Linked DNA regions of Homo sapiens: region 2 is linked to region 1. Evidence: fine-mapped expression QTL. Tissue or cell type: whole blood. Region 1 holds a variant in brackets; the other region holds the start of a gene. All regions are shown on one strand. Distances are from middle to middle.

Evidence for each region. PIP is the estimated chance that this variant, and not a neighbour inherited with it, causes the effect.
Region 2: TGM3 starts here. The variant in region 1 is fine-mapped to the expression of TGM3 in whole blood (TOPMed, PIP above 0.99).

The regions. Positions count from the first base shown.
Region 1 is chr20:2,328,122-2,333,121 of GRCh38, reverse strand. It overlaps TGM3 (transglutaminase 3), which reads right to left. Exons shown (of 13, transcript NM_003245.4): 9 at 4,757-5,000; 10 at 812-1,120. Among named protein-coding and RNA genes, the nearest start is that of TGM3, 35 kb to the right of the region's middle. RefSeq lists an enhancer at 2,573-3,155. The variant C/G (reference allele first, on the strand shown) is at 2,822.
Region 2 is chr20:2,293,521-2,298,841 of GRCh38, reverse strand. It overlaps TGM3 (transglutaminase 3), which reads right to left and starts at 2,841. Exons shown (of 13, transcript NM_003245.4): 1 at 2,772-2,841. The coding sequence starts at 2,778. It overlaps LOC105372503 (a long non-coding RNA gene), which reads left to right. Exons shown (of 3, transcript XR_937203.3): 2 at 1,552-1,650; 3 at 2,348-3,021. RefSeq lists enhancers at 1,071-1,603, 1,604-2,137.

The sequences.
Region 1 (5,000 bases):
CAAACTTTTCATGACAGCTTGAAGGATTTTACCAATGTGGGCACACCTGCATTCTAATCCTTCCACAGCACAACCTTTATCTGCTCCACCTTGTTCCCTTCCCATCCCTGCTACCCAAGGGCAAGGAGTCACTGTTCCTCCCAAACGCTCAGACTTCTAAGAAAACCTGTCACTGTTGTCAGGATTCCAGAAGGTCCACCCACCCCGTGGCAGCTGTGGGAGGGCCATGGGCCAAGGTTTAGGGTCCCGTGGTCATTGCCACCCTCCTGAGGTCAAATTTGAAAAGCGATTTGTTGTGGGAGTGGGGGTGAGGTGGGTAAGAACAATACAACATAGAAAACAGGGGGTGGCTCTGGACTCAGTATCAGGAAACCTAGGACCAAGACTCAGCACTACCACTACTATCTATGATACTTTATCTCCGAAGCAAGTCACAAATCTCTCCCAGCCTCACTTTCTGCTTCTATAAGATGGACACTGAAAATCTGCCTTTTTTTAGACGGTCAAACTGTGTGAGGTGGTATATACTTGTAAGGGATATTGTGCCATAGCTATGAACTGCCAAAGCCTCCCTCCTTCCTCCCTTGGGGCGTAAAAGGATTTTGGTTGGCACCACCCTGACATTTGGTTGGCATCACTCTGTTCATAGAGACAGAAACTTCCAAAGCATTAATACATGGCTTAACCACAGGGGCCGCTGGCTGCTCCATTCGTAGCTGACTAACCTGGAGCCCAGCAGACACCCTGCAGCCCCAGAAGGCCATTGGCTACCTCGGATTCGTGGATCTCCTCCAACTGCGGGATGCGTTACCTTCCTCAGGGTCCAGGGACATTGTGGCAGAGTCCTTCCACACTTCATGTACAAGCGTGCCGTTGTAGATGATGGTCCAGGCTGTCATGTTCACTGTCACTGTCTTCGTATCCCTGCTCAGGTTTTTGAGCAGTAGGACCAGGTTGACTTCTTTGCCTACTGCCAGCATGCCAGCGACCTTCAGCTTCCCGATGATGCTGGGCTCCTGTTCCTCTGTTTCCAAACCCATTGAAGACGTCGCGGCAAATGGCGTGTTGGGTTTAAGTTTCCCCAAAGCCTTTTGGAACACTTGTCTTTCCTGGTCAGAGCCTGTGTGGTGGGAAAAGACAGAAACATGCCAGGGATGTGATGGCAACCTGGGCAAAGGACAGTACCCTGCCTGGACAGGCGGCCTAGGACTGGTGCTGGCTCCATTGCTGCCCTAGCAGGCATTCGACTTTCACAGGTCTCCAGCTCGCCTGTCTTAACCGGAGACTCACAGACCAGTTGGTCTCTGGCGCTTTTCTAATCAGCTCTAAATTTCCCAAAATCTGTAGAAAAGCTTTATCACACCTGCACACAATTACTATGTGGCTTGATCATTTGCTTGCGTTAATTAGGTTAGATTCCATTTTTTTCTGATAAAATGTCTTTTGTGAGACTTAAAAAACAGATAATTTCAAAATAAATCATAAGAACTGAGCTGAAAAAGATTAGAATACATTCATAAGCCAAAAAGCAAGGTGATGATTTAGAACTGACTTAATTAAAAAATTTTTTTTGGTAAACCATGTTCTTCTGCCTTGTTTCTAAAGGTGCTTTGAGAGTCAAGGAGTGACATTTTGATCTGTGCCGGTTGACAAGGACTTCCCATGGTCGGTGTGGTTCCAAGTTATGACTAGTTGAAATTGTCCAGAGATTTCAGTTTTCAAAACTGCAAAGACTGGATAAAAAGATGGGTTTTCTGACTCTGACTCAGGCTATGGGTGCTGCTGAGTGTGATGGCGTAAGTAGCCCACAGAGAATGACAGGGATGTACCTGAAAATGGCTCTGAGGGCACACAGAGCTGAGTAACCGACTGCAAGCCTCTGAGCCAGGGCTGACTGAGCAGTTCACAAAAGGCTTGACCTGAAGATAGATCTAGGAGAAGGTGTTGACCTTCCAGGAACACAGGTACACAAGGAAGAGTGACCATGTTGACGTCTGCAGACCACACTTACATTCTCCCACCTTCCCCAACAACCTGTGAAATGCTTAAGGCACTGGATGACTTTCTTTTCTTTTTTTATTTTTTTTCTCTCTCTTTTTTTTTTTTTTTTTTTTTTGTGACAGGGTCTCACTCTGTCACCCAAGCTGGAGTGCAGTGGCATGATCTCAACTCACTGCAACATCCACCTCCTGGGTTCAAGAGGTTCTCCTGCTTCAGCCTCCCGAGTAGCTGGGATTACAGGTGCCCGCCACCAAGCCCAGCTAATTTTTGCCTTTTTGGTAGAGACAGGGTTTCACCATGTTGGCCAGGCTGGTCTCAAACTCCTGACCTCAGGTGATCTGCTCACCTTGGCCTCTCAAAGTGCTGGGATTACAGGCATGAGCCACTTCACCTGGCCCAGATGACTTATTGTAAGCATTTTACGATACAGCAAGCCCCTTCCCATAAATTACATGTGATTTGCAGAGACTTCAGAGGCCAACTCGTCCATGCCTATCAAGTTAAGGCCCTAAGAAGAGACACAACTTGTCCAGACCACTCTGAGATGGACTGGGCCAGTCATCTGCAGAGGCAGAGAGGGGGCCAGTTCCCTGGTGTCTGGACCCCTGGTCTAAGTTTCCTCCCACACACCCTGCTAAAAAGAAGGCAGGCAGCCAGATTACCTAAGCTGGTAGTTCCTGGTGGGCTGGGTTCCTTTTGATGCCTTCCCATCCTCTAGTCCAGCTGTAAGTTCAACCCAGAGCTGAAGGCAGTGCACGGATCTGAGCCTTCTGTGCCTGGGACCTTGAAGCAGGTGTGTTTGCACAATGAGGCTTGGAGC[C/G]TTGATGCCTATATAGGTCACCTGCTGGGTTTACTCAAGACTAAGCTTCCTCCTGCTGTTTTCTCCCTTTGCTGTTGCTATTGCATCAATACTTAGCAACATATTTTATGAGCTTTTCCTCTCTGGGGCCCTCAGAGAGAAGCTAGAGTCATTAGGTAAGAAGATCTGGGCAACATCAGGCAGGGTGATCTGTCCTGTCGCATAAGGGCTGGGGCATTGCTGGGAGTCCTTCAGGGACCCCCTCCCCCACCCCCACAACGGACCTGCCCATTCTCCATTGTTTAGGAAGTTTGGCTGAGACAGCCAGAGATCAAGGTGTGGGGTAAGGTAAGGAACCCCACAGGATCGTACAGTCATGTAAGCAGCGCCTGCAAAATAGTCACCTTGGGAAGTCATTGTTCCAGTGAGGCTATAGAGGTTCAAATTGATAAAGATCACCACTGCTATTTATCAAGTCTTGACTATATGCCAGGCATTGCACTTGGCACTTTGTATACCTTAGCTCATTTAAATCCCGCTGAAGACAGGCATTGCTCTTCTCATTCTTCGGGTGAGGAAGCGAGGGCTCAGAGATCAGAGGAAACTTGCTCGAGGTCACACAATTATGGCTGGTAGGGCTAGAGTTCACCTTCCGCCCCCGAGTTTTTGCTCCCTGACCCCCTATGCTTGTTTCTACGTCATAACATTGTTGAAAATACTTGTCCTACATCCCCACACCTCCAGCCCATCTGCAGTGTCCTCTGTTGCATCCCCAAGGCCCAGCATGAAGCAGGCACTCAGTATGGGGCTCAGAATATGTTTATTGACTGAGCAAAGGTCTATCTGAGCTCAGTCCTGGGAATGACCTGCAGAGGAAGACTGGGGCCAAATTGAGGCCACCAATCTCATAACCCTAAAACTGTGCCTCCAAATGTTCACAAATACCAGCACCTGGGGGGGCACCCACTTGGACTTGAAGTCAGACCCCATCACCTGCGCTCAGCTTTCCTTTTTTGTAAACTCGGCCAACACCATTAGCCAACCGTCACTTAGAGATTCAGGGCTTACTTTGTGGGTACTGTGTGCACCTTTATGAGGATGCTTTTCTTGACCCCTCAGAACCAACTGTGAAGATCAATGGAATGAGCAATTTCAAAGCATTTTAGAAAGTGTGAAATGTTGACCCCATTTAGGAGTGACTGTGGCCTGCAAGAGCAAGCACTAAATTACTTTTGGCTGTTTCTAAAAATGAACTTTGTCTTCAAATGCAGAACTTTTATCATCATTGAGAATGCTCCAAGAGATGCGCTGCTGGTTTCAAAAGAAACTCTGGGCAGTGAATATAATTGAGTCGAGGCAGCCTCGCAGCAACTGGCTTTCCAAGGTGACTTCAGGGGGACGAGCAATGTAGCATGCCTGAGATTTCAGGAGCTCAGGCATTCACACCATGTAATCACACCTCATCTGGCTTCTTGGGAGACCTCCAAATGTGCACAGTGCAAGCTCAGGTCTCTGGGTTTCTTTGTCCCTTTCTTCGTTCAGATGGTTTTCTCCCTGAGTTTCTCAGAGGCTAAGGGAGCAGACTGATGGAGAAATCTCTCCCAAAGCCCTTGGGGGCCTTTCATGGGGGCCATGTCTCTCCCTGTGATGTTCAGTCACGGTGCTGTCACCCTAGCTGTGTAGTTGAGACAGGGACACAGCTGGAGATGGGCTGGGTTGACAGCCACCTGTGCCCTGCAGCAAACTTCCACTGGCACAACAGCTGCCCGTGATGGTTTTGTTCCCTCCGGAAACAGTCCTGGGAGGTGGATGTTAGGTGCTAGGGAGCAATCCTATCATTCAGGCAGAACTGGCTGCCAGTGCGGGGGAGGTGAGGACTTTTCTCCTCTCCAGCCTCAGAGCCATCCTCCCACAATAGAACCTCTCGCGGCACTGCCCCGCCAGCGTCCCTCCTACCTTCTGGGTACTTGTACTTGTCCGTGACGTCCATGCGAGCATTGCTGCCCACCGCCTTGGTGCTGATGTACCTGCCAATGGTGTGACTGTTCACGGAATTCTTCCACTGTTTGCCAGTGGTGTTGTCGTACAGCCAGGTGATGCGGTCGGCATTAACCTCCGCGAAGATAAAGGGCATGTCGAAGTTCAGCTGCACATCACCCTCTCGAACACCAATGACCGAAGCGGGGCCGCACTGGAACAC
Region 2 (5,321 bases), 34 kb after region 1:
GGGGCCATCTCCTTTTCAGAGAGAGAGAGAGTAGATATTGCCTTGGTCCCAGTGCCAGACACAAAAATATGAGGAGGGTCCAGGAAGCACCTAGAAGATTTACAGAAGAGAAGGAGGCCAGAACCCAAGAGCAATTCCTGACCGCTTCCATGGGAGGAGGGGCGACTGGTGTCCCAGCTCCAAGGAGAACGGTTTGGTGGTAGACCCAGACGCTGGGAATGGTACAGGTCCTTTGGGGGTGGAGGAAATGAGGCCTTGAGATGGGAAGTCCCTGAAGCCAAGGCCAGTGCTCTGCCTGGAAAAGTAGTTGGCAAGAAAGCTCACTGCCCCAGAGGGACAGAGCCATTAGTCCCCAAAACAGAGGTTCTGGTCATTTGCAGGCAGAAGCCTGTGGTTCAGGTGTGTACCCTGAGAACTCTGCCACTAACCCAGGGCTTCCAAGTGGCTTTGGGGATGGGGAATCTTGCCTCCCCTCCACACTGGGGCCCTCCTCTGTGCTCACAAACTGCTCTCCCACCCACTCTGGGGATGCCAGGCCACTTGGTGCGGATCACTGCCAGGCCTTCCTCCACTACCTTCATTTCCAGCCACAGCCCAGGCTGCCTTCTCCACCAAGGGGTGGAATAATGGAACCCCTTCTGATTGCAACAAGAACCTTAAATTAGGAGCTGGACACAGAGTCCTCTCAAAGCAGCACACCTGTCATCCCGATAGTCCCCTGGGTCACACCTGCTCACACTGACATTTATTTTCCTGTTCCCTCTGCCCTGCAAAACCTCTCCAGACCAAGTCCAACTCATTGTCTGTGACCATTTTTCAGAGTCTTCCCTATCCCAAATTCCAGACAAGACTAATCTCCTTCTCTTGTTGGTCCCCGTAGCACTTGTTTTGTATTTGTCATGCAGCTTAATAACAGTCTGCCTTGCATGCTGCTCACCTAAAAAACCGGTGGTACCAAAAAATATCAGACTAAAAGCTACCGAGGACAGAACCACATCTCATTCACCTCCATATTTCCCACTGCACCTGGCACAGCTCTTCTCCCTTAGGTGTTCAGTGAATAAATTCATTCATCCAAGAAACACTGATTGGGAACTTCCTGGCTGAGTGACTCGGAGCTGAGCTGGGAACTGCAAGTGGGACAAATTTAAGGGACTGAATGTATTCGCCTGTCTCTCCACCACCTTTTCAAAATTGATTTTCTCCCCACCAGCCTCATTCTGTTGTGACTTTAGAACATCTCTGGTTGTTAACAGAGACATTTAATCATGCCTCACAGCGGGCAGGCCATTCCTGAGAGTCCACGGGAGGTCCTGCACAGGGATGGGAGGTGCACATTCCTGGGGGCTGGGCACGTGCCTGTCCACTCCCTGGCTCTGGTTTCTTTTTGTGGAGAAAGAAAAGTCGGTACTGGAAGGAACCTCAAAACGCATTCATTTCAAAGCTTTCATCTTGAAAACTTGAGGCTCAGGGGTGGCAGAGAACACACAAGCAGTTGGTCACAAAGCTCAAATGAGAAGCCAGGTTCAGAATTGCTTTTTTATGTTCCAGATGTTATGTGCACTTATGTAGGAGCTCAGCTCTGGCAGCAGGACATGGTGGAAAGGGCACTGCTGAGACCTAGCTGGCTCTGCGATGGATTCACTGTGTGTAAGGTTCCACCCCTTCCTGGGCCTCAGCCACCTCCTGGAGGGAGGGAGATGGGCTAGATGACATCTGACCTCCCCTCTTGCTGCAGTGTGTAGGGTCCAGAGCTCCTCTTCTTAGCATCCCAGCCATGCTGTACATTACAGCAAGGAATGGGAGACAGGGGAGGGGGCCTAATGTGCAATCACCTGTCCCAGTTTTTGTGGCTTCTGAAGTAGCCAGCATTTGCCTGTTGCATTTGGCTCAGTGATGTCTTTGGCCAATCTTCCAGCAGCCCTAATCGCCATTCACAATATTTTACAAGTTTGACTCATATCTTGTTTGGATTTGGCGTCCCTGTCAACCTACTAGGCTGAGCACACAAGACAGATAATAATTAGCATGCTGCTTAGCAGGGGTGCTGATTAACAAAGGCCCATATCCTCGACAGTAAGCATAGAGTGGGGGAACCTGCACTTCCTGTTGTTCTTTGTAACCCCTGTTCCCTGGTGCTCTCCTGTGGACCAGGACATCTTGTGGCACACCTGCTCCTGCTACGGGGAGGCTTCAGCTCATCAAGTCACTTACACAGAGCCTGTCTGATGCTTCTGATGTGTAGCTTACTTAGGAGCATTCCTAATGCTCCTAAGTAAGTTGATTTGAAATAAACAATGGTTTCTTTCAAATCAACTTACATGTTACCACTCTCACTCCCTGGTAGTTCTGAGATGTGCTTCTTTGCTGACACTGCTGACAGCTGGATACAGCTACACTGAGAAACACGAGACCCGAGTCCTGTCTGCTTTGGCTTTACGGGTGGCGACGGATGTGTAAAAGAAACGCAAACACAAACAAGGCAAAGCTTGTCCTCTGCCTAAGGAGATGCGATGTCCAGCTGCACTGAACACCCTGCCCATTATTCAGAGCTACATTCCAATGATGTTCTACCCCAAGAATATGCTAGAGGGACCCAACCACCACTGAGAAAGAGCCGCCTCTGGCTAGCACCCTAAAATAGGAAGTCTGGCCTTCAGAGCCCCCAAGGCAGGCAGCTGTCCTGGCCGGACACTCTGGCTTGGCAGGCTGGCCCAGGGGAAGCACAGGCTTCTGGCAAGGACCTGATGGAGAAGATGCCATGCACTCACCAGCCATGTTTCGCCTTCCTCTGCCTCTTCTCAGGCTCCTCTGGGAATGGCACGGACAGTGCTGACAGACAGGCTGCCAAGGATTGCCTTACCATTTATAGAATCCTCTCCTACACACCCCAATTAGAATTCTAATGAAGTGGGCGAGGCACCAGGTCATTCCTGTAGTGCCTGTAAACGTTTCACTTACGACAGACTTGTCACCCAATGGACGTGCATCATGTTTGTACAAGACCAGCTTGGGGAGAAGGGGGCAGATAATAAAGAAACTCAAATAGTTCGCTTTTATAATTTTATAAAATGATGGACTATTTCCTGGATTGTAGGGTTTAGGAAATGATGACATGCTTTTCTTGCTGATCCTGGGAAGTTCTCTCTGAATCAAAGAAACGTCTCAGCAGAACCCAGAAGAAGAAAATTGTGAGGTCCTTTCTCATGATACACATGTATTAGCATCTTCCACTTGCACAGGGAAGTGAGACACATCACAGTTCATTTGTTTAGGGTTGTAGTGTGGCATAAACCATCATTTGATTTGGAATTAGAAGCCGTTGGTTCTGATGCTGGCCGAGCCCTGGGTGGTCTCCAACCCTTGAAGCCCGGAAGCCTTGCTTGTGGTTGGGGATAATCACTCCCACCCCTCTCAACTCACAAAGCTGTGGACACGATCACATGAGATGGTGCGCATGGGAAGTGTATGCATATCTACCAGGGCAGGTTAAACTGAGATCACACTTGGCGTTGAATGTCAGTTTCAGTCCAGATTTGGGGGAAAATTGTTGTTTTTAATGAGGCAGCAGGAACAGCCTCTAACCTTATGCTTCTGCCATGTCTTTCTCAGACTGCAGGTTCCGTCACTGACCCTCACTGGGCCCACCTTGACATCAGTTTAAAGAAAGGGTGTGGAGTGGGGAGAAGCTCTGACATTCTACGTGTTTTTGTTTGCTTGCTTGTTTCTAAGGGCGTATGTTTTTTCAAAGTTCCTATTATCGATATTTACAAATATCAAGGTTTACGATGGACAAAGGAGTGAGTATATATTTTTTAAAGTGAGGCTTCAAGGATTCACGAGAGAACAGAAATGCCCCAAGGCTTTCCCCAGCATCACAGTGTGGAAGGAAGATTGAGCACCATGATGACAAGGTTGGGTCTTTAGAGAGAAGTGAGAATGTTTGATCTCGAGAAAGAGAAGACGGAATAGGCAGGTGGCTTGGAAAATTGAAAAAGAGAAATCAGTGTCCTTTCTCCGTCCTTTAGGCCCCTACAGCCTTTTGTACATCTTAGAACCTCTATTACCGTATGTATCCACTGCACTGGAACTATCTGTTTATATATGTCCCCATCTCCAGACTGAGCTCCTTGAAGGTACAGGTTGCATATCATTCAAATCTTCTTCTCAGAATCTAGCACAGGGCTTGACACGTGGCTGGAACATGCACATTCTTGAATAAGTGAATCAATATCACTGTAAAGATGGGAATCATAACTACCGATTTAGTGCTTACTAATAATAACTAATTGATTTAGTGTTTACTGTGGGCAGGCACTGGCTAAACACTTTACATATATTAGCTTTTCTCATCTTCATAGCAACCCTATGCAAAGGGGCTATTATTATTTCCATCTTATGGGGGACAGAGAGATTAACCTGAGTCTCCAACCACGAGATTCATACCCATATGTAAATGGCTCCAGAGCCTGTGTTTGCTTAACCTTGGAGGTCAGCGCCTAAATGAGGCAGCCTTTCCCAGGCCTCTGGGGCTCTAAGACAGCTGGCTGTGCACCCATGCCAGGCAGAATGGGATGCACTGTTGGCTCTGGCAGATGACTAAGAAAAGAGCAGAGGGTAGAGAGGGACATGGAAAGAGCCTGGACCCAAGAGGAGACTCATGTGTGGTCTTGGCTCCTACCACGGGCACTAGCTGTGACTCTGGGCGAGGCCTCATGACGCCAAGTTCATCCTGCCAGAAAGCTGGAGGACAGCTCCATGAATGGCATGGGATGAATGGGTGTGAAAGTGCTCTGTATGCTTCTGTGTGTGGTCTAAAGGAAAGGAGGGGTTTTGCTTATTATTGTGGTTGTTGCTGTTGGCCTGGGAGCCAAGGAAAATCAGACCCCGGGCACTCCTTTCAATGACCTGACAAGGAAAGCTGCAGAGGTGACAGGGAGGTGGTGCTCCCCTTAAAAGGGAACCTGAAGACACACAGTCTTGGCTCTGCCAAGTCTCCTCACCTCTCGTAGGCTTTGTTTCCTCAACTGTAAAACTGAGTGGAATTGCTCTGAGAATCAAAGGAGACAGCAAGTGTAAAAGGTTCAGCACGGCGCTGGGCACAGCCCAGTGTAAAAAGTTAGTATTAATAATATTATATTATTAGCCTGGCCGGGTGCGGTGGCTCGCTTCTGTAATCCCAGCACTTTGGGAGGCCGAGGTGGGACCTTGAGGTCAGGAGTTTGAGACCAGCCTGGGGAACATGGTAAAACCCTGTCTGTACTAAAAATACAAAAATTAGCCAGGCATGATGGTGCGTGCCTATAATCCTAGCTACTCGG